Homo sapiens: one gene and its partners. The protein of the gene in region 1 interacts with the protein of each later gene in a biochemical or structural test. Each region holds a gene or a part of one and is shown in the gene's direction. Other genes may lie near its edges. The genes, in order: LIMK1, NRG1, PAK2 and PAK6.

The links.
Region 2: the proteins of LIMK1 (region 1) and NRG1 form a complex in vitro, tested with the Homo sapiens proteins (one study listed by BioGRID).
Region 3: the proteins of LIMK1 (region 1) and PAK2 interact in a biophysical measurement, tested with the Homo sapiens proteins (one study listed by IntAct).
Region 4: of the proteins of LIMK1 (region 1) and PAK6, one has a biochemical effect on the other in vitro, tested with the Homo sapiens proteins (one study listed by BioGRID).

Annotation. Positions count from the first base shown.
Region 1 is NC_000007.14:74,114,582-74,122,103, forward strand, and holds part of LIMK1 (LIM domain kinase 1), read left to right. Parts: intron 1-1,220; coding exon 1,221-1,377; intron 1,378-6,001; coding exon 6,002-6,057; intron 6,058-6,310; coding exon 6,311-6,468; intron 6,469-6,557; coding exon 6,558-6,720; 3' UTR 6,721-7,522. UniProt on the Homo sapiens protein: Serine/threonine-protein kinase that plays an essential role in the regulation of actin filament dynamics. Acts downstream of several Rho family GTPase signal transduction pathways.
Region 2 is NC_000008.11:32,760,979-32,768,500, forward strand, and holds part of NRG1 (pro-neuregulin-1, membrane-bound isoform isoform HRG-alpha proprotein), read left to right. Parts: exon of another isoform or gene 1-1,043; intron 1,044-2,239; coding exon of another isoform or gene 2,240-2,360; exon of another isoform or gene 2,361-2,381; intron 2,382-2,769; coding exon 2,770-3,424; 3' UTR 3,425-7,522. UniProt on the Homo sapiens protein: Direct ligand for ERBB3 and ERBB4 tyrosine kinase receptors. Concomitantly recruits ERBB1 and ERBB2 coreceptors, resulting in ligand-stimulated tyrosine phosphorylation and activation of the ERBB receptors.
Region 3 is NC_000003.12:196,735,358-196,743,093, forward strand, and holds the start of PAK2 (serine/threonine-protein kinase PAK 2), read left to right. Parts: upstream 1-4,499; 5' UTR 4,500-4,800; intron 4,801-7,736. UniProt on the Homo sapiens protein: Serine/threonine protein kinase that plays a role in a variety of different signaling pathways including cytoskeleton regulation, cell motility, cell cycle progression, apoptosis or proliferation.
Region 4 is NC_000015.10:40,262,645-40,270,166, forward strand, and holds part of PAK6 (serine/threonine-protein kinase PAK 6), read left to right. Parts: intron 1-2,136; 5' UTR 2,137-2,141; coding exon 2,142-2,345; intron 2,346-3,197; coding exon 3,198-3,851; intron 3,852-7,522. Other genes in the region: BUB1B-PAK6 (serine/threonine-protein kinase PAK 6), read left to right, coding at 2,142-2,345, 3,198-3,851. UniProt on the Homo sapiens protein: Serine/threonine protein kinase that plays a role in the regulation of gene transcription. The kinase activity is induced by various effectors including AR or MAP2K6/MAPKK6.

The DNA of each region.
Region 1 (7,522 bases):
AGCAAAAAACATAGACCTCACCTGCTTATTGGGAATATTCAAGATAAAATTAGGCCAGGCACGGTGGCTCACGCCTGTAATCCCAGCACTTTGGGAGGCCGACGTGGGCGGATCACGAGGTCAGGAGATCGAGACCATCCTGGCTAACACGGTGAAACCCCGTCTCTACTAAAAATACAAAAAATTAGCTGGGCATGGTGGCAGGCGCCTGTAGTCCCAGCTACTTGGGAGGCTGAGGCAGGAGAATGGCGTGAACCTGGGAGGCAGAGCTTGCAGTGAGCTGAGATCGTGCCACTGCACTTCAACCTGGGCAATAGAGCAAGACTCCAACTCAAAAAAAAAAAAAAAAAGATAAAATTGGGCCAGGTATGGTGGCTTACTCCTGTAATCCCAGCACTTTGAAAGGCTGAGGCAGGTGGACCACTTGAGGCCAGAAGTTGAAGACCAGTCTGGGCAACATAGCAAGACCCTATCTCAATCAGTCAATCAACCTAAATAAATAGTAAATCTGGTGGCATGCCAAGCACAGGACCTGGGTCTATAATCAAAATTCCTGTCTTGATGGGCACAGTGGCTCACACCTGTAATCCCAGCACTTTGGTAGGCCACAGTGGGTGGATCACCTGAGATCAGGAGTTCGAAACCTGCCTAGCCAAGTATGGTGAAACCCGTCTTTACTAAAAATACAAAAATTAGCCAGGCATGGTGGCAGGCGCCTGTAATCCCAGCTACTCGGGAGGGTGAGGCAGGAGAATCGCTTGAACCTGGGAGGCGGAGGTTGCAGTGAGCCGAGATCGCGCCACTGCGCTCCAGCCTGGGTGACAGAGCAAGACTCCGTCTGAAAAAAAAAACAAAAGAATTCCTGTCTTCTCTCCGAAACAAAGCAGCATCAGTGCCCCCGCAGGTGGGAGGGAGCGCTTGCAGGAGGGAGCAGTGGGTCCGCCACGACGGTCTGGGGAGCAGGTGGGGAGGGGGCAGAGGGTGCAGCGTGTGGTGGGAGGGAGGAAGCCACACTGCTATCTTCAGGTGCTTCCCGCAGCTCCATTTGCAAAGAGCGGATGGGTTTGGGGAAGGAAGGGGTCCCCACCCTGTGCCAATACAGCGTATCAGAGGTATGTTCTCTGGGCTGTCTACAGGTTGGCTTGGGGTCCTGGGGAGGGGCAGGCCAAGCGGGCAGTACTAGGATCGGGTCCCAGCATGACCCGGCTTCACCTTCCCAGAACAAGAATGTGGTGGTGGCTGACTTCGGGCTGGCGCGTCTCATGGTGGACGAGAAGACTCAGCCTGAGGGCCTGCGGAGCCTCAAGAAGCCAGACCGCAAGAAGCGCTACACCGTGGTGGGCAACCCCTACTGGATGGCACCTGAGATGATCAACGGTGAGTGGTTCAGCCCTGCCCATCATGGCCCTCACGGGAAGCCATGGGGGAGCCCAGGAGAGCTGTAACCTCCCAAGCCCCTGGCCCCTCCCAGCCTCCTTGGCTCTTCAGTTACCCTGTGGGTCCTGTTGCTCCTATAACACACTTAGTGGCAGCCAGGCACGGTGGCTCACGCCTGTAATCCCAGCACTTTGGGAGGCTGAGGTGAGTGGATCACCTGAGGTCAGTAGTTGGAGACCAGCCTAGCCAACATGGTGAAACCCCCATTCTTTACTAAAAATACAAAAATTAGCTGGGCATGGTGGTGGGTGTAATCCCAGTACTGTAGTACTGTAATCCCAGCTACTAGGGAAGCTGAGGCAGGAGAATCGCTTGAACCTGGGAGGCAGAGGTTGCAGTGAGCCGAGATCGCGCCATTGCACTCCAGCCTGGGTGACGAGCGAAACTCCATCTCAAAAAATAAATAAATAGAAGACACTTAGTGGCTTAAATAAATGATCATACAGTTCTGGAGTCTGAAGTCCAGCGTCAGCCTCACCGGGCTGAAATCAAGACGCCGGTAGGGTGAGCTCCTTCTGCAGGCTCCGGGGCACCTGTTTCCTGACCTTTTCTGGCTCGTGGAGGCTTCCTCATTCCTCCTGTTGCTGCCCCCTCCTCTGTCTTCAGGGCTGGCTGCAAAGCATCTTCTCTTCTCTGATCTCTGCATCCATCCCCGCATCTCTTTCCCTGGCTCTAACCTTCCTCCTTTTTTTTTTCTTTTTTAAAGAGGGTCTCGCTCTGTTACTCAGGCTGGAGTGCAGTGGTGCCACCATAGCTCACTGCAGCCTCAACCTTCTGGGCTCAAACTGTCATCCCACCCCAGCCTCCTGAATAGCTGGGACCACAGGCATGCAACACCACACCCAGCTAATTTTTTTATTTTTTATTTTTTATTTTTTTTTGAGACAGAGTCTCGCTGTGTCTCCCAGGCTAGAGTGCAGTGGCGTGATCTCAGCTCACTGCAAGCTCCGCCTCCTGGGTTCACGCCATTCTCCTGCCTCAGCCTCCCGAGTAGCTGGGACTACAGGCGCCCGCCAACACGCCTGGCTAATTTTTTGTATTTTTAGTAGAAACGGGGTTTCACCGTGTTAGCCAAGATGGTGTCGATCTCCTGACCTCGTGATCCGCCCGTCTCGGCCTCCCAAAGTGCTGGGATTACAGGCGTGAGCCACCGCGCCTGGCCAATTTTTTAAATTTTTAATAGAGACGGGGGTATCACTATGTTGCCCAGGCTGGTCTCAAACTCCTGGCTTCAGGCGATCCTCCTGCCTTGACCTTTCAAAGTGCTGGGATTCCAGGCATGAGCCACCATGGCCCTCCATCCTTCTGATAGGGACCCTTACGGTGACATTGGGCCCACCTGGATAATCCAAAAGCAGCCCTCCATCTCAAGACCCTCAACTTAATCCCATCTGCAGAGTCCGATGGAAGGTGGGACGTATACAAGTCCCAGGGATCAGGACGCAGTCATCTTTGGGGATCATAGTTCTGCCTCCCACAGGGTCTGCTTCCCTCAGTCCATTTCTTTGCTGTCAATGGTCCTATATATGCCCAGATTATAGGTTATAAAGTCCTTCTACAAGCAGGTGACACATGAACACAGGTTCAGGGCAGGCAGACCCCAGCCATCACCTCATCATAGTTAACCTAGTTAAATTAGCCTGGCATGTGGCGTGGTGCCTAATGCCTGTGGTCCCAGCTACTCAGGAAGCCAAAGCGGGAGATTTACTTGAGCCAAGGAGATCAAGGCTGCAGTGAGCTATGATCATACCACTGCCTTCTAGCCTGGGCAACGGAGTGAGACCCTGTCTCAAGAAAACAAAAAATAGGCCAGGCACAGTGGCTCACACCTGTAATTCCAGCACTTTGGGAGGCTGAAGCAGGCGGATTGCTTGAGGCCAGGAGTTCGAGACCAGCCTGGCCAACATGGTGAAACGCTGTCTCTACTGAAAATACAAAAATTACCCGGGTGTGGTGGCACAGCTACTAGGGAGGCTGAGGCAGGAGAATCACTTGAACCCAGGAGCAGAGGTTACATTGGGCCAAGATTGCACCACTGCACTCCAGCCTGGGCAACAGAGGAAGACTGTGTCTCAAAAAGAAAAAAAAAAAAACCTTCCTGTAATCCCAGCACTTTGGGAGGCTGAGGTGGGCGGATCACGAGGTCAAGAGATTGAGACCATCCTGGTCAACATGATGAAACCCCATCTCTACTAAAAATACAAAAAAATTAGCTGGGCGTGGTTGCACGCGTCTGTAGTCCCAGCTACCCGGGAGGCTGAGGCAGGAGAATGATGTGAACCCAGGAGGCGGAGCTTGCAGTGAGCCGAGATCGCACCACTGTACTCCAGCCTGACGACAGAGTGGGACTCTGTGTCAAACACACACACACACACACACACACACACACACACACACACACACACACAGAGTTAACATAGCCCGCAAAGAAGACTATAAAACAGTCTTAGTGGCCGGGCGCAGTGGTTCACGCTTGTAATCCCAGCACTTTGGGAGGCCGAGGCAGGTGGATCATGAGGTCAGGAGTTTGAGACCAGCCTGGCCAACACAGTGAAACCCCATCTCTACTAAAAATACAAAAATTAGCTGGACATGGTTTCGGGCGCCCGTAATCCCAGCTACTCAGGAGGCTGAGGCAGGAGAGTTGCTTGAACCCAGGAGGCAGAGGCAGGAGAGTTGCTTGAACCCAGGAGGCAGAGGTTGCAGTGGGCGACAGAGCAAGACTCTGTCTCAAAAAACAAAAAAGTCTTAGTGTTTCCTATGTTTAGGGATTAGTGTGAGGATTAAAGGTTGTAAACTCATTTCCACCTAGTTGGCATTCAGTAAATGAGAATTGACATTTAGTACTAATTGTTTCGGGTATTTTGTTTTTTGTTTTTTGTTTTTTGTTTTTTCTGAGACCGAGTCTTGCTCTGTCATCCAGGCTAGAATGCATGGTGCGATCTCGGCTCACTGCAAGCTCCGCCTCCCGGGTTCACACCATTCTCCTGCCTCAGCCTCCCACGTAGCTGGGACTACAGGCGCCCGCCACCACGCCTGGCTAATTTTTTGTATTTTTAGTAGAGACGGGGTTTCACCATGATCTCGATCTCCTGACCTCGTGATCCACCCGCCTCAGCCTCCCAAAGTGCTGGGATTACAGGTGTGAGCCACCGTGCCCGGCCAGTTTTTTGTTTTTGAGATGGAGTCTTGCATTGTCACCCAGGCTGGAGTACAGTGGCGTGATCTCGGCTCACTGCAACCTCCACCTCCTGGGTTCAAGTGATTCTCCTGCCTCAGTTTCCCTAGTAGCTGGGATTACAGGCACCTGCCACCATGCCTGGCTAATTTTTCTATTTTTAGTAGAGATGGGGTTTCACCATGTTGGCCAGGCTGATCTTGAACTCCTGACCTCAGGTGATCCACCCGCCTCGGCCTCCCAAAGTGCTGGGATTACAGGTGTGAACCACTGTGCCCGGCCATGTACCGATTATTTTTAACATCATTAAGTAGCTGGTATCATTCCCATTTTACAATAAGGAAACTGAGGCTCAGAGAGTCTGTGTCAGTTTCCTGAGGTTGCTGTAATAAATTGTTAGAAACTTGATTATTTAAAACAGCAGAAAATGGTCAGGCACAGTGGCTCACACCTGTAATCCCAGCACTTTGGGAGGCCGAGGCGGGCAGATCACTGGAGGTCAGGAGTTCGAGACCAGCCTGGCCAACATGGTGAAACACCATCTCTACTAAAAGTACAAAAATTAGCTGGGCATGGTGGCAGGCGCCTGTAATCCCAGCTACTCGGGAAATTGAGGCAGGAGAATCGCTTGAACCCAGGAGGCAGAGGTTGCAGTGAGCCACAATCGTACCACTGCACTCTTGCCTGGACAACAAAGCAAGACTCCATCTCAAGATAAAATAAACAGCAGAAATTTATTCCCTCTTAGTTTTGGAAGCCAGAAGGTTGAAATCCAACAGGGCTGCGCTCCCTCCAGGGCGATCTAGGGGAGAATGCATTCCTTGCCTCTTCCACCTTCTGGTTGTTTTGCATTCCTGGGCTTGTGGCCGCATCACTCCAGTCTCCACCCCTGTCTTCACAGGGCCACCTCCTCCTCTTCTGCTGTGTCTTCTCTGTGTCTCTCTCAAGAGGGCATTTGCAGTGGCATTTGGGGCCCACCCAGATCATCCAGCATCATCTCATCTCCAGATCCTTAACTTAATCCCATCTGCAAAAGACCCTTTTTCTGACCCAGTAACATTCACAGATTCCAGAGACCTGACATGGTTCCCTTTTGGGACCAGCACAGAGTTCATGACTTGTGCAAAGTCACGCAGCTGATCGGTGCCTCGAACTCCTTGTCCAGGGCTCTGCCCCTTGCTCCTCAGAGCTCCCAAAGGCTTGCTCAGACCTGGTGGGGTTGGGGGAAAGAGCCTAAGCCTGGGTTCCCATAGAGGTTGCCGGCATCTGCCTCCTGGGCCTGGACCTCCCGGCCGGGGCATCCTCCCAGCTGGCCTGGTCCCCTGCCTTTTGGCATCCCTGGCACCCCCATGTGTTCATCTGCTGACAGTCGGTCTCTTTATCCAGGCCGCAGCTATGATGAGAAGGTGGATGTGTTCTCCTTTGGGATCGTCCTGTGCGAGGTAGGTCCAGGGTTGGGTAGCAGCGGTGTTGAGGCCTGGGCTCCTCCCCACTCACCCAGGCTGCAGGCTCAGCATCTGCAGGGGCCTCATGCCAGGAAGCCTGCCCACAGCAAGGCATGGGCTGGCCCCCATGGGGTACTGCAGTCAGGCTGCAGCCAGGCCCAGTGCCACCTGCCCTCAAACCACCTGGATGGCACCCAGATGCCCAGGCTGAGGGCCCCCTGGAGTAACTGCCGGGCCTTGTACTGGACAGATCATCGGGCGGGTGAACGCAGACCCTGACTACCTGCCCCGCACCATGGACTTTGGCCTCAACGTGCGAGGATTCCTGGACCGCTACTGCCCCCCAAACTGCCCCCCGAGCTTCTTCCCCATCACCGTGCGCTGTTGCGATCTGGACCCCGAGAAGAGGTGAGTGGGGTGGGGCCCTGGCCTGGGAGACGGTGGGGCCGATTCCCGGGACAGCCAGACCCACCGTTCCCCACCCACCTGTCACCCAGGCCATCCTTTGTGAAGCTGGAACACTGGCTGGAGACCCTCCGCATGCACCTGGCCGGCCACCTGCCACTGGGCCCACAGCTGGAGCAGCTGGACAGAGGTTTCTGGGAGACCTACCGGCGCGGCGAGAGCGGACTGCCTGCCCACCCTGAGGTCCCCGACTGAGCCAGGGCCACTCAGCTGCCCCTGTCCCCACCTCTGGAGAATCCACCCCCACCAGATTCCTCCGCGGGAGGTGGCCCTCAGCTGGGACAGTGGGGACCCAGGCTTCTCCTCAGAGCCAGGCCCTGACTTGCCTTCTCCCACCCCGTGGACCGCTTCCCCTGCCTTCTCTCTGCCGTGGCCCAGAGCCGGCCCAGCTGCACACACACACCATGCTCTCGCCCTGCTGTAACCTCTGTCTTGGCAGGGCTGTCCCCTCTTGCTTCTCCTTGCATGAGCTGGAGGGCCTGTGTGAGTTACGCCCCTTTCCACACGCCGCTGCCCCAGCAACCCTGTTCACGCTCCACCTGTCTGGTCCATAGCTCCCTGGAGGCTGGGCCAGGAGGCAGCCTCCGAACCATGCCCCATATAACGCTTGGGTGCGTGGGAGGGCGCACATCAGGGCAGAGGCCAAGTTCCAGGTGTCTGTGTTCCCAGGAACCAAATGGGGAGTCTGGGGCCCGTTTTCCCCCCAGGGGGTGTCTAGGTAGCAACAGGTATCGAGGACTCTCCAAACCCCCAAAGCAGAGAGAGGGCTGATCCCATGGGGCGGAGGTCCCCAGTGGCTGAGCAAACAGCCCCTTCTCTCGCTTTGGGTCTTTTTTTTGTTTCTTTCTTAAAGCCACTTTAGTGAGAAGCAGGTACCAAGCCTCAGGGTGAAGGGGGTCCCTTGAGGGAGCGTGGAGCTGCGGTGCCCTGGCCGGCGATGGGGAGGAGCCGGCTCCGGCAGTGAGAGGATAGGCACAGTGGACCGGGCAGGTGTCCA
Region 2 (7,522 bases), on another chromosome or scaffold:
CTTGGATGCTGCGTCTGGCAGTCTTCACGGGTGGTTTTCAAAGCAGATACTGCCTTCAAGATGGCCCTTTATTCCAGAATGTTTTGGCTTTCCTTTGGGGAGATTGGGTTGGGTTGGGGGAGTTATAGCAAAGGTAAAATGAAGAATGGAGGAAAGTAAACAAAGAGATATTAAATAGTAATATTGAATTCATAGATTCTCTTTCTCCATTTTCACCTGAGCTGGAAGATGACCAGTATTTCTAGCCCATCAGTAAGCTGTTACCTGTTCCTATTTGTTTGCAAGTCTGCTGGGTTTTACTTTATTTTATTGTCATCTCAGGCTAATCTTTGACCATTTACTAAAAGGTTTACATAATGTCAAATCCATACTTATGTGGTAGTTACATGGGAGGAGATGACTTTGATAGAGTCTTTCCACTCTTGGACTGGGAAGTTACTTCCAATAAAATAACACATTCTGGGCTTGAAGGCCTGTTGCTTACTTTTGCAAGGGCCTTTCCTTCAAAATGATATTTTAGAACTTTGTGGAATTTATGAAATCAGAGGTAAGCTATTACCTGTTTGTTTGCAAGTCCGCTGAATTTTATTTTATTTTATTTTATTTTATTTTATTTTATTTTATTTTATTTTATTGTCATCTTAGTCTAATCCTTGACCATTTACTAAAAGGTTTACATAATGTCAAATTCATACTTGTGTGGTAGTTCCATGGGTAGGGATGACTTTCATAGACTCTTCCCACTCATGGACTGGGGAGTACTTACAATAAAAAATGACAGGCTGGGCACGGTGGCTCACGCCTCTAATCCCAGCACTTTGGGAGGCTGAGGTGGGTAGATCACGAGGTCAGGAGATCAAGACCATCCTGGCCAACATGGTGAAACCCCATCTCTACTAAAAATACAAAAATTAGCTGGGTATGGTGGTGCTGCCCTGTAGTCCCAGCTACTAGGGAGGCTGAGGCAGGAGAATTGCTTGAACCCAGGAGGTGGAGGCTGCAGTGAGCTGAGATGGTGCCACTGTACTCCAGCCTAGGCAACAGAGCAAGACTCCGCCTCAAAAAAAAAAAAAAAAAAAAAACATTCTGGACTTGCAAGCCTGTTGGTTACTTCTTCAAGGGCCTTTCCCCAAAAATGATATTTTAGAACGTTATGGAATTTATGAAATCAGAGGTTTCCCTGCAACCAATCTATGAAAAAGTAGGCAGGGTTTAAACTGTTTTAAAACTTTAGTCTTAAATTCATATTTTTTTAATGTATTAAGGAAGTCTATCCATTCTGTTTCAATCGTTTTTTGAAACATGAAAAGGAAGTTAGAGATGAAATCATTCTTCATCACTACAAGTGATATTTATCCTTAAATGTTGACATTTCCCCACTGTGCTGGGCTTCTAGATGATATCTAGGACTACGAAATATTCCTGAACCTAGAGATTATGGAGAGAAAAGATGAATCACTTTTATATGTTGGTTGAATTTAAATTAGCATTTCTCAGAGAGCTTAATTTAAGTACCCCCAAAGCCAAAAGTTTGAAGGCTCAAGGCCCACATATTTCAATTTCTCAGGCACGTTCCCAGTTTAGAGGCAGCTAGCTCTCACGTCTGTATCACTGTGACTCCGGGAGAAGCAGGGAGGTTCATACGTTTTCCGTTCCTGTTAGCAAGAGTTCAGATGATGGCATTCCATGTCATTTCAGGTCACGTCAAATTAGACTCTGTGAATGCCAGTGTGAAGAAAAGAGTCATTTAGTGTTGTGCGTTGGTAACATTTTTTATCAAAAGCTGAGAAATGTGACTCTGAATAAGCCACGTCTTCCTCAGTGCCAAAAGTCAGGACTTCTTATACTGGGGGAAGAAAGCATGGTGTGGTGAAAACAGTGTGCTCGGTGGCCTAATGGCAAGAGTCACTGAGCATTATCAGACATAACATGATAGAAGGTAACAGGGTACAGCCAACCCTTGAGGCATCATGAAAGAGATTGACCAAAGACTGATATAGCTGTGGGTTTTGGAAGAGAGATAGACCAAAGATTGGACATAACCTCCATTGTGGTAACTGTGAAGCCAAATTAGGTTCTCTCAGGCTTACCTTTGACTGTGTTTGTTGGACACTGGGATGGATAGTTCCAAATTGAATGTTAACTAGTTGCATTTCATGGAAAAAATGAAAAGCACACAAATGTATGACACTGTTGTCAGGAATAAATCTAAGTTACTATGCTCTTTTTTTTTCATAAGACATAACCTTATAGCTGAGCTAAGGAGAAACAAGGCACACAGATCCAAATGCATGCAGATCCAGCTATCAGCAACTCATCTTAGATCTTCTTCCATTCCCCATTTGGGCTTCATTCTCTAAGACCCCTTGGCCTTTAGGAAGGTATAGTATTTAAGTAATACTTCTTTCCCTTCCGAATCCCTGAGCCTTGGTCCTTATATAAGCTGAGAGGTTTCCAGGACCTAATGCCTTCTTGTCTTGGCTCATATGCCATTATTTATAATTGTGATGAGATTGAAAATCCCAAAAGCTTTGATGAGCTAGGCAATTTAGCTGATCTTTGCATGCACTCCTGTGAGGAAACTCTTGGCTACCTAATTTTCGATTCCAAGGGTGTGGAATTTCCTAGCCTAAATAATTAAGCAGCCTACAATGAATAGAAATTCTCTGTTCTCTGATGATATAATACCGTGAACTCTGTCCCCTTACCTTCCCTGCTATGTGCCTCTTATTGCACCACACTTATGCAGGGTATTCTGTGCTCACACAGGTATGTGTCAGCCATGACCACCCCGGCTCGTATGTCACCTGTAGATTTCCACACGCCAAGCTCCCCCAAATCGCCCCCTTCGGAAATGTCTCCACCCGTGTCCAGCATGACGGTGTCCATGCCTTCCATGGCGGTCAGCCCCTTCATGGAAGAAGAGAGACCTCTACTTCTCGTGACACCACCAAGGCTGCGGGAGAAGAAGTTTGACCATCACCCTCAGCAGTTCAGCTCCTTCCACCACAACCCCGCGCATGACAGTAACAGCCTCCCTGCTAGCCCCTTGAGGATAGTGGAGGATGAGGAGTATGAAACGACCCAAGAGTACGAGCCAGCCCAAGAGCCTGTTAAGAAACTCGCCAATAGCCGGCGGGCCAAAAGAACCAAGCCCAATGGCCACATTGCTAACAGATTGGAAGTGGACAGCAACACAAGCTCCCAGAGCAGTAACTCAGAGAGTGAAACAGAAGATGAAAGAGTAGGTGAAGATACGCCTTTCCTGGGCATACAGAACCCCCTGGCAGCCAGTCTTGAGGCAACACCTGCCTTCCGCCTGGCTGACAGCAGGACTAACCCAGCAGGCCGCTTCTCGACACAGGAAGAAATCCAGGCCAGGCTGTCTAGTGTAATTGCTAACCAAGACCCTATTGCTGTATAAAACCTAAATAAACACATAGATTCACCTGTAAAACTTTATTTTATATAATAAAGTATTCCACCTTAAATTAAACAATTTATTTTATTTTAGCAGTTCTGCAAATAGAAAACAGGAAAAAAACTTTTATAAATTAAATATATGTATGTAAAAATGTGTTATGTGCCATATGTAGCAATTTTTTACAGTATTTCAAAACGAGAAAGATATCAATGGTGCCTTTATGTTATGTTATGTCGAGAGCAAGTTTTGTACAGTTACAGTGATTGCTTTTCCACAGTATTTCTGCAAAACCTCTCATAGATTCAGTTTTTGCTGGCTTCTTGTGCATTGCATTATGATGTTGACTGGATGTATGATTTGCAAGACTTGCAACTGTCCCTCTGTTTGCTTGTAGTAGCACCCGATCAGTATGTCTTGTAATGGCACATCCATCCAGATATGCCTCTCTTGTGTATGAAGTTTTCTTTGCTTTCAGAATATGAAATGAGTTGTGTCTACTCTGCCAGCCAAAGGTTTGCCTCATTGGGCTCTGAGATAATAGTAGATCCAACAGCATGCTACTATTAAATACAGCAAGAAACTGCATTAAGTAATGTTAAATATTAGGAAGAAAGTAATACTGTGATTTAAAAAAAACTATATTATTAATCAGAAGACAGCTTGCTCTTACTAAAAGGAGCTCTCATTTACTTTATTTGATTTTATTTTTCTTGACAAAAAGCAACAGTTTTAGGGATAGCTTAGAAAATGGGTTCTGGCTTGCTATCAGGGTAAATCTAACACCTTACAAGAGGACTGAGTGTCACTTTCTCTCTGGGGGAATGATCCAGCAGCTTATCTAGTTGACAATCAAAACACGGCTGATAAAGGTGCAATCATTTCTGACATGTATTTTTCACTGATTTTGAAGCTAGTGATTGGTTGTGTCTTCTTGGCTCAAAAAGAAGCATATTACGGCACAAAAAGCCCAGCCCAGACAGCACATGCAGCATTTTGTCTGAAATACTTCTAGAGTCAAACGTGCCTGCTGTACATAGCGATGACTTGTCATCATAGGGAAGTATTTCCATCGTAGAGTGTTCAGAAGGAGTGACTGTATAGGTGGAGAGAAGCTTAGTGACTCCGTTGAAATTTTAAAATGTGGATGACCACCCCTTTCTCCCCCTTATTTTTCTTTTATCTTTCCATGTTGCCTTGATCAGGTCATAACTATGCATGAACATTTTTTATCAGGAATGGCCGATGTGTATGTGATTTGTAATCACAAGTAATGATTCATCAGGAAATGTCAATCCTGTTGGAAAGATTGCACCTTTACTTGCAGAAGTGACCCCCACCTGTGTCCTGACCTCTCCATTTACAGGCTCTCTCACCCATTTCCCCCACCTCCTTTAATTTTTGCTTTACTGTCATAAAGTAGGACTAAGATTGGTCTAAGCATTGCATGTTCTTTTGTGATGGTAAATCCAAAGGAAGGCCTATAAGTATTAACATTTGAAATAACTGCTAATTCAGGAAAATGGAAGAAAAAAAATTATTTGAAACACAGAACCCATTTCATGGCCTGCCTGATATCTGTGAAATCAGGGCTGGAGCTTTACTTAGGATTCACATGGCCTCCTAGGAACCATGGGACAAATGGGAAACAGGTTATCGGGGGATTCATGAAGTCAGTGAGAGTAATTGCTTCTTTTTTGCGGGTGAACTGAATGTATTTCTTCACCAAATCTTGATGTTAACAATTAAAAAGAAGAAATGACATGCAAGTAGGTCTTAGCAGAAAAATGCAGGCTGGGCATGAGTCATGTTGTTACCCTCCCACATGCTCCTACAATCCACAGAGATGCCTGTCTGCAGGTTCTTGAAGTTATTGTTAGTATTTGGTATCTCAAATTTTTCGTCACTGTTCACATGCCACTTTCTCTGTGCACAGTGGTATCCTCATTTGCTTTTTAACCTACACTGAGGAGTCTTTGTCAGGTTGCACTGATTTTCCAATTCTGCAGTAATGAGTAAGCTCACGGCATGGGGAAGAAGACAGTCAGTCCAATGAAGTTCTCTAAATTATTTTAACATTGCCTTTGAAGGCCTTGACTCATCCTTAGCTATTTCAATGAAGAAATTCCTACCATGAATTTAAAACCCTAAAAATTCTGTTTCAAATTCTTTGGGCATTGGGGTACTCAGATATCCCATTGTGGAAGAATTTTAAGAATAAATAGAAGTTTCTGTTGAGAACCATGAGCAACATGTTTCTTACAATGAGAATTGCTATGCATTTTAAAATTGCAAATATATATGAAAATTGAAGACAAGAGGAAATTGTATTTCTAACTTGATTCTGATCACTCACAGAGGTGGCATATTATTATAGTTGGGACATCCTTTGCACCCTTCATAAAAAAGGCCAGCTGACTGCTCAGCATCACCTGCCAAGGCCACTAGATTTGTGTTTACAGGGGTATCTCTGTGATGCTTGTCACATCACTCTTGACCACCTCTGTTAATAAATTCCGACAGTGCAGTGGCGATCGGAGTGTGAACTTATGTTCCCAGCATATGGAAAGCTATCTTAGGTTTTAAGGTAGTAGAAATTGCCCAGGAGTTTGACAGCAACTTTGTTTCCCGGGTCTAAAATCGTATCCCACTGAGGTGTATGCAGTGGAGCATAATACATGCAAATACATGCAAAACTCCTTTTGTTTCACCTAAGATTCACTTTCTATCTTACTTTCCCTTCCTGCCTAGTGTGACTTTTGCCCCCAAGAGTGCCTGGACAGCATTCTAGTTTCTACAAAATGGTCCTCTGTGTAGGTGAATGTGTCCCAAACCTGCTATCACTTTCTTGTTTCAGTGTGACTGTCTTGTTAGAGGTGAAGTTTATCCAGGGTAACTTGCTCACTAACTATTCCTTTTTATGGCCTGGGGTTAAAGGGCGCATGGCTCACACTGGTGAAAATAAGGAAGGCCTGGTCTTATCTTGTATTAATAATACTGGCTGCATTCCACCAGCCAGAGATTTCTATCTGCGAAGACCTATGAAACACTGAAGAGAAATGTAGGCAGAAGGAAATGGCCACATATCACAAGTTCTATTATATATTCTTTTGTAAATACATATTGTATATTACTTGGATGTTTTCTTATATCATTTACTGTCTTTTTGAGTTAATGTCAGTTTTTACTCTCTCAACTTACTATGTAACATTGTAAATAACATAATGTCCTTTATTATTTATATTTAAGCATCTAACATATAGAGTTGTTTTCATATAAGTTTAAGATAAATGTCAAAAATATATGTTCTTTTGTTTTTCTTTGCTTTAAAATTATGTATCTTTTCCTTTTCTTTTTTTTAAGAATAATTTATTGTTCAGGAGAAAGAATGTATATGTAACTGAAACTATCTGAAGAATGCACATTGAAGGCCGTGAGGTACTGATAAACTAAAGAATTTATTATTCAAAATACTAAGCAATAAGTAATTGTGATTTATTTAAAGTTTTGTCCATTTTCCATGAAAGACATACTGCAATAAAAATGCTACTCTGTGGAGACCTGGGAGTGTTGCTCAGCAGACTACAGCTTCAGTCTGTTAGACCAGCACCTTTCATCTCATTCCCATAGTTATGCTAATTTAGGATTGTGTTCCATGGACCCCATGATCACCTTGTCTATACGTTGCTTCTTGTCTGTCCATTGCTTTTGCCACACCACCTGTTCTCAAATCATCTCCTCCCTACCAATGCTGTTTATCACTTTCTTCCTTGTTGAAGAGGCCACACAACCAGACAGTACTATGCTTCCTTTTTCCTCCATACACAATAACAGAGAGAGAATATTCTAGGGCATGACTGCCTGGATCCTGGCTGTTGCTATCTTTTGTAGTGGCAGTAAGAAACTCCTTCAGACTAATGAAAATGTCAACGTGCCATTCAATCACGAAAGGTAACGAAAAATGCTCTCATGGTTCAAATAGTCCAATGGCCCATAGTGGCCTAAAAGGCAGCCAGTTGACACCTGGCCATGCTAAGCTTCCTTATACCATCCGCTAATGACTTTCCATTGGGCCCACAATTTACGGATTCATAATTTTAA
Region 3 (7,736 bases), on another chromosome or scaffold:
ACAGAAGACATCAAACCAGGGTGTGTTGGCATTATTTATTTTATGTAGAGTATTGAGATGTGATAAACCTTTGTATATGCCATCACTGCTCCATTTCCTAAAGTATTTTGGTGTTTTCATGGGACTACATCTTGTATAATTTGACATGTATGACCTGACTAGTCCTAACAGTTCTTTTTAAACGTGTATTTGAGACTTAAATATTGGAAAAGGTAACCCAGTGCCATAAAGCAGAAACAGTGACCTTTAAAATGACTAAAATTTCAACCCAGTATAGTTTCATACCTATTTCATGCTTTCTCGTAAGAAAGAATTTCATGTTTTAGAAACATTTCTTTCACTATGGGATTAATAATATGACACTGAAATGGAATTATATATGTCAGCTACAATTCAGGCATTGTTTTGGGATATGGTTAGATTGACAGGCAACGTTTTGGAATATGGTTAGACGGGGAGGGAACACGGTACTGTTTAACATCTTAAGAGTATGTGGGGGTATGTGTATACAGAATGTTTTTGTTTTTGCTCATCACAACCAGGTTTCATCAGTATTTAAAATATTTAAGATTGTGGCTTGGAATGTGGTTCAGCCATTTACTCACTTATACAAATATTCAGAAGTGTAATAAAAATGTGAATGAAGAAAACTTTGATATAACTCTTCTTGCTTAGATAAATGGTTGCAGATGACATCACTTTTAGTATAACAGAACATTTCTGGTTTTGTTTGTATTATCTTGTAAACATGGCCAACATGGTGAAACCCCATCTCTACTAAAAATACAAAAAATTAGCCGGGAGTGGTGGCATGCGGCTGTAATCCCAGCTACTCGGGAGGCCGAGGCAGGAGAATCACTTGAACCCGGGAGGCAGAGGTTGCAGTGAGCCGAGATCGTACCACTGCACCCCAGCCTGGGCGACAGAGTGAGACTCCGTCACAAAAAAAAAAAAAAAAGGGAAAGAAAAAGAAAGAAATATACCTTTTAAGGAGTTCCTTTAGTGTGTCTCTGTTGGTAGCTTGTTTATGTTTGATGATATATTTATTTCATCCTCACTCATCTGATGGATAATTTAGGTAGTTGTACACTTTTTTTTTTTTTTTTTTTTTTGAGACAGAGTCTTGCTCTGTCGTCCAGGCTGGAGTGCAGTGGTGTGATCCCTGCTCACTGCAACCTCTGCTTCCTGGGTTCAAGTGATTCTCCTGCCTCAGCCTACCAAGTAGCTGGGACTACAGGCGCACACCACCACACCCTGCTATTTTTTATATTTTTAGCAGAGACAGGGTTTTGCCGTTGTTGGCCAGGCTGGTCTTGAACTCCTGATCTCAGGTGATCTGCCCACCTCAGCCTCCTAAAGTGCTGGGATTACAGGTGTGAGCCACTGTGCCCAGCCGGTAGCTGTACACTTCTAAGCTTGGTTATTTTCTCTTGGTACTTTGAAAATATACCATTATTGACTGGCACCCGTTTTGCTGTTGTGAAATCTGCTATGAATGTAATAGTTGTTTGTACAGAATGTCTTTTCTCTCTGGTTGCTTTATCTCTGGTATTCTGCGGTTTCATTTTCATGTGTTTGAAATTTCTTTACTTATCCTGCTTGGTATTCAGTTTGCTTCCTGAATCTGAAGATTCCTGTCTTTAATCAATTCTGGAAATTTTTCAGCCATTATCTCATCATTATCTGCCTCTCTTGGTTTTTCTCTTTTCTCTCCTGGAATTCTCATTAGGAGTATGGTAGAGACCTTAACAATCTATCCCCATGTCTCTTAAGCTTGCTTTCATTTTTCCTGTCTCTAGGCTGTTCTCAGTAATTTCTTTTGGTCTGTCTTCCAGTTTACTAATTTTCTCTTCAATTGTGTGTAATCTGCTATTTAACCAAACATTGGCTTTGGTTTCAGTTATTCTTTGTTTCTAGAAATTCTACTTAATTCTTTTGTTGTTGTTGTTTTTGTTTTGAGACGGAGTTTTGCTCTTGTTGCCCAGGCTGGAGTGCAATGGCATGTTCTTGGCTTACTGCAACCTCCACCTCCCAGGTTCAAGTGATTCTCCTGCCTCAGCCTCCTGAGTAGGTGGGACTACAGGTGCCCACCACCACGCCTGGCTAATTTTTGCATTTTTAGTAGAGACTGGGGTTTCACCATGTTGGCCAGGCTGGTCTCGAACTCCTGACCTCGGGTGATCTGCCCACCTCGGCCTCCCAAACTGCTGGGATTACAGGTGTGAGCCACCGCGCCTGGCCTACTTATTTCATTTTCAAAGCTGTTTGGTCGTTAAAAAAAAAAAGCATCTTGTTTCTTGCTCGTGTTTTCTAGCTCCTGTCTTACTTTCTTTAATCATTTAAATAGGCGTACTGTATATTCTGTAGCCATCAATTCCAGCAGCTAAAGTCTGTGTGGGTTTCATTATGTTCTTTGTAGTTTCTATTGACTCACTCATCGCTGCTTATTTCCTCAGGTGTATTGTATTTCGGGTGCTCATGTTTGGCTTCGGAAATCCTGTTTATCTGTGAAATCCTTTGAGACCGAGGTTGAGGGTACACCTGTGCAGTCAGGATTTGTATTTGTTTCTTCCAGGCCCCCCAGAACTCCAGCCTGGGACCACTTTCTTGACAAATTTGAACTTTAAAACCTTAGTGAGGGAAAATTCTAAAGGGTTATTAATTCTAAAGGGAAAATTTTCTTCTGCCCTGCAAGCCCACTGCAGGCCAAAGTAAACAAATGTCCTGTGTGTCTCCCTGGGCTAGCATAGGGTTTTTTTTCCCCCCAGTCTGTTCTTGGAGGGTATAGCGCCTTGAATTTCCAGTCCTATGCAGGATCACAGTCCTGACTTCTTGTATAGGCCCAAGTCCTTGTCTTTAGTTTCCTGTGCACCTATTAAAACTCTAGAGATTTCTGAGATAAGTAGGTGCCCTCAACACAACCATGGCTTCACTGCCCTGCTTACCACTCTGGTGTCCTGCCCCTTCTTCAGGTTGAGTGTGAAATTTGGAAGACTGTCAGAAACATTCTATTTTCATTCTTGCAAGTTATGCCTTTGAAAGGATGTCTTATTTATCCAGTGTTTCTGTGTGTTTAATAATCAGAGCATTTTTCAGGTTATCTCTTACTGTGCCATGTTGCTCCTTGATTCCTTTCTCTCCTGTACCCACTGCATCAATTGAGTTTTTTGCTCTACATTGATAGAGAAGCACAATTCCTCTTTCTTTCCACTGCCTTCCTACTTTATTTCCCTTCTATTCTTGCATCTCTATACTCCATTATCCACATTGCAGTCTAGTGATCTTAAAGTGTAAGCCAGGTAACATCGCTTTCCTGCTTAAAAAAGCCTTTTAATGGTTTTTTGTAATATAGACTTTTTACCATGGCATTCAGGATCTTTCATGACCTGAATCTTGTCTGCTGTAGTGTTTTCTTAATAGTACCGCCTTCTTGTTCTAGGCCCCAGCTACACAGGCCTTCTTAACTGACCGTAGCAAGCCCTTTTCTTTCTTCTCCTGCCTGTATTGCTTTTCTCTGGGTGCTTCTTATTGCTGTCTCTTTCTGTTCTTGCCTTAAGTGTCACCTCCTTAACGAGGCCTTCTCCGACCACCCTATCCAAAGTAACCTCGCCAAGTTTTTTCTTATACCAGGTGTGACTACTTTAATTACTGCGTCCTCATATAAGCTCCACAAAGGCTTGGTGAATCGTGTTCACCCTTGCATTTCTTTTGTGTTTTTTGTTTTGTTTTTGAGGCATGACGACTCTGTCACGCTGAAGTGCAGTGGCCCGATCTTGGCTCACTGCAGCCTCCTCCTCCTGGGTTCAAGCGATTCTCCTGCCTTAGTCTCCCGAGTAGCTGGGACTACAGATGCGTGCCACCATGCCCAGCTAATTTTTGTATTTTTAGTAGAAACGGGGTTTCATCGTGTTGGCCAGGCTGGTCTCGAACTCCCGACCTCAGGTGATCCGCCTGCCTCAGCCTCCCAAAGTGCTGGGATTACAGGCGTGAGCCACCGCACCTGAACCACCCTTGTATTTCTGATGCTTAACAGTGTCTAGTCCATATCAGACACTCAAATATTTGTAGAATAAGTGAAACATTGATGAACTCCTCCGTGGATAAAATAGGGAAGTCTTAATTTGCAAGGAGGTGATACTTAATTTAGCAGCAAAATTTTAGTTAAGAATTTGTAAGCAAAAAAGCAAAATGGATAACGGATGAATTCCCAGAAACAAATGTCGCGGAGCAGATGTGTATAACAGCAATCGTCTGTCAGCGTCTTCCGTCGGCAGAGACCTGCTTGGAGACAATGCTGAATTAAATGAGGGACTGGCTGCTCCTCTCAATACAAAGACTACCCAAGGAATAAAAGCAACGTCTATCACCGAACTACTACTCCCAGCGGCCCCCGCGCGGGCCTGCCCATGGGAGGTGGCGCTCGTCTCCGCCCCGGGGAGCTCCGGCTTCGGGGCGGGAGGGGTTCTGGGTTCTGGCCCCGCCCCGCCCCGCTCCCCGCCGTCTTCCTCCCCCAGGGTTGTGGCCACGCGCAGCGGCGGCGGTTGTTCCGCTTCCCCTCCGGCCCGGGCCGTCGCCATTGCCGAAGGCTCCCTCCCCTCCCCTCCCTGGCGTGCGCAGGACTCCGCCGCCGCTGGGCCTAGCGGTAGCAGCGGCTGCTCCAGCGCGGCGTCTCTTCCCGCCCCGCTTCCCCTTCCCTCCCCTCCCCTCCCCGCACCGCGCGCTAGCCCGGGGCGGCTCCGCAGCCCGCCGGGAGCTCTGACCGAGGCGCCTCGCTGGGGCGGGGACCTTGCCTTGCCCGGGGTAAGTGCACACAGGCCGGCCGGCGCGGGACGCAGGCCGGGTCTCTTCCTCCTCCTTCCTTCTCCGTGGCCTGGCGGGCGGGAGCGGCCCGGGACGGCCGACCTGCCCCGCGCGGGGCCGGGGAGCCGCCACCTGCGTGCTGGGAGCCGCAGCTCCTGGGGCGGTGGCTCATTGTCTGCTCCCCAGGGCCGTTTTCTTCGCTGGCTTTAGCCAGAAATGGGAAGCTCGCTGGGCTGCGGAGGTCTGACTCTTCCTGGACCCAGCCCTGCTCTGAACCTCGCGGCACCACGGTCTCTGCCGACTCTCGGTCTTCCCTCCCCTCGCGTTTCACCCTCTTCCTTTGCTCCGTTTTCTTAATGCTGGACCAGACTCTCCGGTTTTGTTCCTTGATTTTTCCTCTCACTGATTCTCAGCCCCTGCTTGCTCGCTCTCTGTTCACCCGTTTCACTGCTCAGGAATATTGTCGCGAGTAGCTTGACTGTTTTCTCAGCTCCAGCCTGTAACCTCTTTTCCACATTCCACATTGGTAAAAACGTAGAGCGTCCCGGGCGCTTGAGGGCCACCGCTTACGAACTGATCTTTCGGAGCTTCTCCTCGCTCCTGTTTGAGCTTCAGCCTAGGGGTGAAATTTGCTTCTTTAGATAACTTAGGTGAAGTTAAGATTGGTTTTTCACCATGTTTGGCTCTCTTGGAAACACACGCACGCACAAACACAAAACGTTGCCACTCAACCTTTTAACTAATTCTTTAAAGATAAGTCATCCAAGAACAGAAGCGTGTCATCGTCAGTGGGTGTGAGGTTGTACCCATCCTTGTATCTTAATTTTAGTAGTACTCTCCCTGGGCAGTGTGAGCGTGATTTGTTGTCCCTTGATAAATAACGAACTCCGGTTGATATCATTATCTCACTTCTGCGTTACAGGCGATGTGTCCTTTCTTTGTTTTCTTTTTTAACCTTTATAAAAAGACAAAATGGTTAGGCCTAAAATTAAACTACGAAGAGCTGTGTTTTGGATCAAGGTTGTGCACGTCACGTTTTTTCCCCTGCTGTGTTCGACTCTTCCGCTCTTATAAGTAGGCAGGATATTGAAATGTACAAGAATTTGCTCTGGGGATTTTGTTTTTGTAGGGTTGTCCAATAGAATAACACTCAGTAAAGTTACATTGGGATGAAGGCAGTGAATAGTAATTTTTAAAGCAGGTTAAAACTTGTCAACTTTGCCAGAAGGTCTGTGGCTTCTGTAAAGCCCACTCATGCTCGTGTATATATGAAGAGCCTTTTTCATGTTCTGTTAGGAGTATGGATTTCAGGCAACTTTTTCACTGTGTCATCCTCGGCTATTAAATCTTTCGAGCTACTTATTAGCCAAGCACATTGATTGACACTTATTACGGAAAGTGAACCTGTAATAGATGTAGGTCTTAAACCAACTTTCCGATTTGGTAACAGGTTGACCTAAATTCAGTGTATTTTGTGTTTTCACTAAGTAGCCCATTGTTACCTTTCCCTCCAGCAAGGCTCTGAAAAAAGTGGCTCCAATACTCAGCTTCAATACTGTCATCATTTCTTAAATAGTAGTATCAGTTGTCCTTAACTTAATGGATGTTTTATTGGCCTGAGGGATTAAGGTGTAGAAAGGTTGGAGTTTTGTTGGAGTTTGAAACTTGGTCTGTAGATGTTGGCTTCTCTGCCAGTTTCTTCTAATCAGCAGATATTTTTATGAAGGAAGAGTTCCTGGGTATTTCACTTCCCTTAGGGCCTTGGTTTATGGTTTACTCTCATTCAGAGAGAGATACTATTCTGGACTCCGTGCTATTTAATACTAACCTTGCAAACCCAAATTCAAAATTAAGTTTATAGTTCGAGTATACAGGCGATAGGGCTCTCTGATCTTTATGATAGACAGGTTCCCAAGTAGATGCGGTTAACAATTAATATTTCTTTTTTTTTTTTTTTTTTGAGACGGAGTTTCAGTTGCCCAGGCTGGAGTGCAATGGTGCGATCACCGCAACCTCCGCCTCCTGGGTTCAAGCGATTCTCCTGTCTCAGCCTGCTGAGTAGCTGGGATTACAGGCACGCGCCACCACGCGCGGCTAATTTTGTATTTTTAGTAGAGATGGGGTTTCACCGTGTTGGTTAGGCTGGTCTCGAACTCCCGACCTCAGGTCATCTGCCCGCCTCAGCCTCCCAAAATGCTGGGATAGGCGTGAGCCACGGCACACCACCAACAGTTTCTATTTCAATTATACTTTTTAAGAGAGACTAGAACTTGTTCAGGTAGCTAAAGATAAACTTTCAATTATACTTTTCTAATATTTAAGAACTTCAAGTAGCCAAGGATAAAATGAGTAGGAATTGTTAGATTCTTCCTTTTATCCATCAAAATCGATTATTATTATAATAATATTTGAGTATATTTCTTTTGGCTTTCTGACTTTTACACTTTTGGTTAAAATTTGAAACTGGGTCTTCTTCGCCGGGCGCGGTGGCTCACGCCTGTAATCCCAGCACTTTGGGAGGCCGAGGCGGGCGGATCACGAGGTCAGGAGATCAAGACCATCCTGGCTAACACAGTGAAACCCCGTCTCTACTAAAAATACAACAAAAAATTAGCCGGGCTTGGTGGCAGGCGCCTGTAGTCCCAGCTACTCGGGAGGCTGAGGCCGGAGAATGGCGTGATGAACCCGGGAGGCGGAGCTTGCAGTGAGTCGAGATCGCGCCACTGCACTCCCGCCTGGGCTACAGAGCGAGACTCCGTCTCATTAAAAAAGAAAAAGAAAAAGAAACTGGGTCAACTTCAAGACTTTAAGTCGTAAAGGTTTCCATCAGTTTGGTATAAGAGTTGAGTTTCCAGACTAATCAGAGGGAGGGTGTTAATTGCAAATTGTGTGTCCAAGCTCTTCCTAGTATCCTTTTTGTGCCTTAACAGAGCAGA
Region 4 (7,522 bases), on another chromosome or scaffold:
ACTGGTAAGTCTGAGCAGAAAGTGGTTTGGTGTTACTCCCAGACTTGTATCTGCCCAAGTGCCAGTGTCTGGAGGGCCTGAGCTTCAAGACAGGGATTCAAAGAGAGGTGACATCACAAGAGAAACAACCGTCATGTATGGGGACTCTGCTTACTTCACACACCCTAAACCCTATGAGCTGTCTTTCATTAACCCCCCTGGCTCAGATCATTTCAGTTATTTGTTCAAAATCTCTCCAAATTATTAGTGGGAGACTCCCTACAACTCATCTGCAACTCACACAGGTTGTTTTATTCCAAAGGGCTTGGTCTGTAAGGGTCCTGTACATGTGGCTCTACCTCTAGGGGGTGTTCGGTGGATCCCGAACCTCAAGACCCAGAAGCATGGCTGACATTGAGATGTGACGTGGGCTCTGATTGAGTCACGCATGGTGAATTCCTAGTGGGGAACCACTGGCTGTCCAGGGTCCCTGCCTTTCTGCCAGCTGCCTCCCAGATCTGCGACCTCCTTCAGAACCTGCCAAAATGACTAGGAAAATGCTGTTTCCATAGCAAGAGCCAAAAGAGAACATGACGGCCCTGCACTCCAGATCTTCGGGCGGATGAGTAATCCAAGCTTTCAGTTCAAGAATCATGTTTCAGTTTCTTGAAGCCTGGAAGTGACCTTTTCAGATACATAAGAACCCAGTGAGCTGTTCTGAGCCTCTTCAGATCCAAAAGCATTCAAGAGGCAGCCCTGGCCCTGTCTGCCATCAACATGTGATCCCAGGTCCGGGATCCCCTGAAGGCGAAACTAGAGCAACCCTTTGGAAGTGTCCCTCCCCTTCCCAGGCCCCCAGTTCCCCACTCTCAGATCTACCCATGCTATCCATTGCAAGCCTGTGTCACTTCTGTGTATGCAGCTCAGCACGACCTTAGGCAAAGCCAGAATCAGCAAGGCACGGGACACAGGCTTGATTGCAGGTTAAGTGTTTTATTGTTTGTTTTTTGAGACAGAGTCTCATTCTGTTGCCCAGGCTGGAGTGCAGTGGGGCAATCTCAGCTCACTGCAGCCTCAGCCTCCTGGGTTCAAGCGATTCTCCTCCCTCAACCCCATGGGTATCCGGGACTACAGGCACGTGCCACCAGGCCCGGCTAATTTCTTTGTATTTTTAGTCAAGACAGGTTTTCACCATGTTGGCCAAGCTGGTCTCAAACTCCTGACCTCAGGTGATCCACCCGCCTCGGCCTCCCAGAGTACTAGGATTACAGGCATGAACCACCATGCCCGGCCCAGGTGATGTTTTACATAGAGCTCCAATACCAGAGAGAAGAGTGTCAAGGGGAGGTGGTGCTCTCTGCCTTCTCTGGAGAGCTTTACCCCTAAGTTAGCTGCCCCTCACCCACCCCAGGCTATCCTCTTGGCTCAGGGCCTTTCTGGAATTGAGGTAAAGCACATGGTAACCATGAAGGCCCTTTGGGGGCTCCCTGATACATAATAGTCCCACACCGGGCAGCATGTCTGTGATCAGCTGGTTGGCTTTTTATTAACGTATCATATTAACAGGTTCAACCATCCTGGGACAAAGCTGAGTTGTAATAAAAAAAAAAAGCCAACAAAAAAATAACTTTAATATACTGTTGGATTCAATTCGATAGTTTTAAGATTTTCATAGTTACGTTCCTAAATGATATTGAGTCAAATTTTCCTTTTCTTGCACTCTCCTTATCTGGTTTTAAGAATCAAGGTCATACTCGTTTCATAAAACAAGCTTGCTAACTTTCCTCCCTCTTTCCCCATTTTTAAAATTCGTTGACAGACAGTGGAATGATACTTGTAATGGGCTTTGGATTTTATAAAAACACACCCCCAGAGTCTGCCTGCTCCATAGGGGACTTGGCACAGGCAAGAAGACACCTCTTTTCCTTGTTTATAGTCTGCACTGGCTTATTTATGGCACGTTTGTTGTTTCTGGGACTGTTCTGCTGGGAGCCAGCCATTTCCCTGAGGAAGCAGAGATGGAGGTGGAGGGAAGCCCTAGGCTTCTAGGGGAGCTGTGCTGGGGGAGGGGAGGGAGCCCTGAACCTGGTGCCCCAGGCCCTGCTGCAGCCACCCCTCTTTCCCGGGAGGGAGCTCAACCTTACTCTGCACTTACAGGCACCATGTTCCGCAAGAAAAAGAAGAAACGCCCTGAGATCTCAGCGCCACAGAACTTCCAGCACCGTGTCCACACCTCCTTCGACCCCAAAGAAGGCAAGTTTGTGGGCCTCCCCCCACAATGGCAGAACATCCTGGACACACTGCGGCGCCCCAAGCCCGTGGTGGACCCTTCGCGAATCACACGGGTGCAGCTCCAGCCCATGAAGGTAAGAGGGGCCGGCAGGGATGAGGTTCAGCCTCTCCCAGTACTCAGACAACCATGCCTGGCTAAACCTCAGAAAGGCCCCTGGAGGAACCACCTACTTCACAGCTATCAGTTAATCAGCTGTTTTAACTCCCTGCCTGTCAGCCTGCCATTCTCTCCCTGGGTAAGCCAGGGCGAAGGAGGCTGGGGAGACCCTCTCTGCAGGGTGGTGGGGTTGCCAGATTCAGCACATGAAAATGTGAGATGCTCAATTGCATTTGTATTTCAGATGACAACGAATAGTCTTTTAGGACGTGTCCCATTCAATATTTGGACCTGCAGCCCCATAGGGACTGAGGGCTCTCCCAGACCAGGAGAATTTTAGTTGTGAGGGTCACGACTAGTAGACCCAAGAGCCTGGTAGAAGGTGGGGTCAGGGGCCCTATCAGGGTTTGGAGGCTGCGAAGCCAGTGTGTGTGGAGGAGCCCCCGGCCTGGTGTCTCTTCCTCAGAGGGCTGGGCACATCTCTCCCAGCCACCCGTGGAGCTAGAGAATGGAGCCCCGCCCCCTGAGCTCCAGCTCCCTGGCCCAGCCGACCACACCCCTGGGCATGCTGGATGCAGCCCCATGGCACTCACCATCTGCTCTGCTGACGCTGGGCCTTCTCCCCGCATCCCTGCATCCAGCACAGGCGGGACCCACGGTGGGCCCTGATAAATTATGGAAAAATTAATGGGTGGATGACACAGCAGGGAAGGTCCTTAGGTGGTCCTCCCCAGGGCCCCCAGGGACATTCTCTGACCCTGATCTCCCAGCCACCCCTCCCTGCCACAATTGGGCAGCTCCCACACACTCTTTTCTCTTCCCCCTACAGACAGTGGTGCGGGGCAGCGCGATGCCTGTGGATGGCTACATCTCGGGGCTGCTCAACGACATCCAGAAGTTGTCAGTCATCAGCTCCAACACCCTGCGTGGCCGCAGCCCCACCAGCCGGCGGCGGGCACAGTCCCTGGGGCTGCTGGGGGATGAGCACTGGGCCACCGACCCAGACATGTACCTCCAGAGCCCCCAGTCTGAGCGCACTGACCCCCACGGCCTCTACCTCAGCTGCAACGGGGGCACACCAGCAGGCCACAAGCAGATGCCGTGGCCCGAGCCACAGAGCCCACGGGTCCTGCCCAATGGGCTGGCTGCAAAGGCACAGTCCCTGGGCCCCGCCGAGTTTCAGGGTGCCTCGCAGCGCTGTCTGCAGCTGGGTGCCTGCCTGCAGAGCTCCCCACCAGGAGCCTCGCCCCCCACGGGCACCAATAGGCATGGAATGAAGGCTGCCAAGCATGGCTCTGAGGAGGCCCGGCCACAGTCCTGCCTGGTGGGCTCAGCCACAGGCAGGCCAGGTGGGGAAGGCAGCCCTAGCCCTAAGACCCGGGAGAGCAGCCTGAAGCGCAGGCTATTCCGAAGCATGTTCCTGTCCACTGCTGCCACAGCCCCTCCAAGCAGCAGCAAGCCAGGCCCTCCACCACAGAGCAAGGTAAGTCAGGAGCCTGGCCTGCAGGTGTCCACTGGGGAGTGGGTGTAGGGACACAGGCCTTGCCTAGCCTTCCCCTTGGAGGACTGGCAAAGAGGCTCCCTGGACTGCTTCCGCCTAAGGCGGCAGAAATGTGCACGGTAACCTCTTCTCTAAGGAGGGTGGCTCGCCTCCTCCTTCCCTCCCTTCCTTTCCTTCTTTTCTCTGTGGCTGTTGTGTTGTTTCCCATTTCTGTCAGTATTTGTTCCCAAGTGTGTGGCCATAGGAAAAGCTGGATTTGCCTAGTCCAGGGGCAGCAGGAGGCCGACTTGTGGCATGTGTGACTGCTTCAGACGCACATTTTTCTTGTGAGAAAGGAAAGGGTGAAGGGAGCCCCCGTGGTGACATTTCTTGGCAGGCAGAGTGGAGCGCACCTTTTTGCTTCTTCCAGGCCCTCCAGCATCCTGTTGATAGTGACAGTAACCTCTTTTCCCATTTGGCAGAGGAGGAGACTGATAGAGAGAGGGTGAGTCACCCCCAGGCATGATGGAGAGTGAGTCAGAGAAGGAAGGTGGGGAGTGCTCTGGGGCTGCCTGTCCGGCCCGGGCCCTCTTGGCTCATGACTCTTGCGTATGAAGGCTTTACAAGCACAGCAGCCACTTGTTCTTTAGCTCCTTCCTGGGAGGGTCAAAGGCAGTCCTAAGAAACGGCTGCTGACAGTGGCATGGGTAATGGAGCCTCCCCTCCCTCCTGGGAGGGCTTTAAGACAAGCCTGGGTACTCCCCTGTCATCGGTGGGGTGAGTGTGGCCCAGCCTGCACAGGGTGTGGGTTTGGGGATGACCCGGACTACAACCTCTCTGGGTCACTGCCTGCCAGCTGAGGTACTCAGAGAAAGTTCTGGGCGGCCGCGCGTGGTGGCTCACGTCTGTAGTCCCAGCACTTTGGGAGGCCAAGGTGGATGGGTCACGAGGTCAGGAGATCGAGACCATCCTCGCTAACACGGTGAAACCCCGTCTCTACTAAAAATACAAAAAAAATTAGCCGGGCGCGGTGGCGGGCGCCTGTAGTCCAAGCTACTCAGGAGGCTGAGGCAGGAGAATGGCGTGAACCCGGGAGGCAGAGCTTGCCGTGAGCTGAGATCGCACCACTGCACTCCAGCCTGGGGGACAGACAGAGCGAGACTCCGTCTCAAAAAAAAAAGAGAAAGTTCTGAGCTTTGTGCACTCTAGTCCCCTACTAGGTTAAAGGACAGTGGGTTGGGATCCCCATGGGTTGTGGCTTGATGTATCTGTGAGAGGAACACGAGCATCTGTGAGCTGCAGGGTGTCTGGAAGGCTGTGCCCCTGGGGAGACTCAGCCAGAAAACCAACGTAAGATCAGGACAGTGCACCCTGCTGGGAAGGTGAGATTCGGAGCTTGACCTCCCTCTGTCTCTCAGGAGTCCTGCTGCGAGGCCTCAGGGATTTGGAGAAAGGGGTTGTCAACACTGGGCTGGGCACTCATTTGCATCTTTCTGGGCTCCTGCCAGCACCCCACAGCAGGGGGAGAGGCCTGTCCATCCCTGCACAATGTACTGAGTACTCACCATGGGCCACTGCTGCTGGGTATGCCGGGATGTCCCCCATACTTGTGGGAGCAGGCGGTAGTTATCTCGAGCTCAGCAACACCATACTTCCAAATCCAGGGGAGTGGTTTCCTTCTGGGCAACTCAGACACATCTTTCAAGATTTCTACTCTGAAGCCAAGCCTCTCAATGGCAAGCTGAGACCCCCCGAGCTGCTCCGGGCCGGGGCTTCTCAGCGTCCTCACTGCAGGCGCTCAGGTCAGTCCATCCTTTGTGGTGGGCTCTCCTTGCACTGTAGCAGCCTCCCTGGCCTCTACTCACTAGAAGTTGGTGGTACCCTCGGTTGGAATAACCAAAAATGCCTCCAGACACTGCCAAATGTCACTCGAGCACACCCATTAAGAACCACTGCCTTAAGCAAATTCAATAACAGATGGGGAGCATCAGCCTTCCTCCTCCTCCTCCACCACCACCTACCCCAGGAGTCCCCAGATCAAGCCAGCAGCCCTTGGCACTGGGGCTGACTCTGGACACTTGCAGCAGCTTCCATAACAGCAGTTAGGCCACAGAGGCCATGCAGTGTGCCAGGCATGGCTGCAGGAGGGTCTGAGTATAGACTCCAGGGCTCCTGTACCTAGCCCCAGGCAGTGAGGCCTGGAGTCACTCTAGCTAAAGAGATCAGGAAGACAGGGCGTGGGGGCACAGAGACCAAAGAGGCAAGACAGTTTTTTAGGAGCTTGCAGGGATTAGACATGTTCCACTTAGAGTCAGAAGGGCAAACATTGGTTAAGCACCTACCGTGTACTCCGATATATGTCAAGGATACATGGCACCAGTGGGATTGCAGCATGGGAGTCAGCAGCCACGGGCGTCCTGCGGGTTCCAGTGCCTACAGGACAACCAAACAACCCACAGGGTTATGAGGATTACATGAGATAGTACGTTGAAGGCACTTGTCAAAGTGGTAAGCCCTCAATAAATGGCTTTATTAGTAGTATTTGAGATGGCGTCTCCCTCTTTCGCCCAGGCTGGAGTGCAGTGGCACAATCTTGGCTCACTGCAACCTCCACCTCCTGGGTTCAAGTGATCCTCCCACCTTAGCCTCCCAAGTAGCTGGGATTACAGGCACGCTCCACCATACCCAACTAATTTTTGTATTTTTAGAAGAGATGGGGTTTCACCATGTTGCCCAGGCTGGTCTTGAACTCCTGACCTCAAGTGATCCACCTGCCTTGGCCTCCCAAAGTGCTGGGATTACAGGCACCTGAGCCACCATGCCAGGCCGGCTTTATTATTTTTAAAAATATTATGCCATGGCCTCTCCCCTTTAGGATACTTAAGGTATAGCCCCCTAAGCCCACAGCTGGGGAGCCATGGCTCAGGGCGGGAAATGAGGCATTGCTGTAAATGTATGCATGACTCTTCTAGTGGCTTTCTTCCCAAGAGGTCTATCACATGAGTAACTTCAGAATTAATCCAGAGCCTGTAACAATTAATTAATTCTGTTGTCGTGTCCCCCTTTCCCTTTCTTGTGTGGCCTCACAAGTTTCATCTGGTCCTTGCTTGTGATTACATTGATAAAAGCTCCCTCCCTGTGGAGACAGGCAGTGAAGCCAACGAAAGGATGCTAGAGACCAGACCTTGCCAGGCTGAAGACCAAGCCAGCTCCCCAGACTCCCCAGCCTATGTCCCAGACTCTGCTTGTGCTGGGCTCCTGGCTGGGCCATCCCTCCCCCAGCCTCCAGACGCAGGCTCCGCCCTGAGCCCAGCCAGCACCTGCAGCAGCAGCAGCAGCACAGGGACCTGGCCTGTGGAGACAGGGAAGAAACCCCTACCTCAGCCTGTCCACGTGGTACCCACACATCCTCAGAGTAGAGCTGGCCCATGCAGAAGCCCTCAAGGCCAGGAGGGGAATGATCTCATTTTACAGCCTTTCTTAGGAGCTTCAGGATGAGAGGTCATCAGAGCCACCTCAGGAGGAGCTTTAGGTGGTCCCCAAGCTTCTGCCCCGACCCACCTGGATGGGTGCCTGGAGAGCATGTTTTCTGAGTTAAGTCCACACTCAGGCCAGCAGGCAGCTTCCTTAGAGCCCCGAGCCTTTCTACAGGTTGACTGTGTGATGCAGTGAGC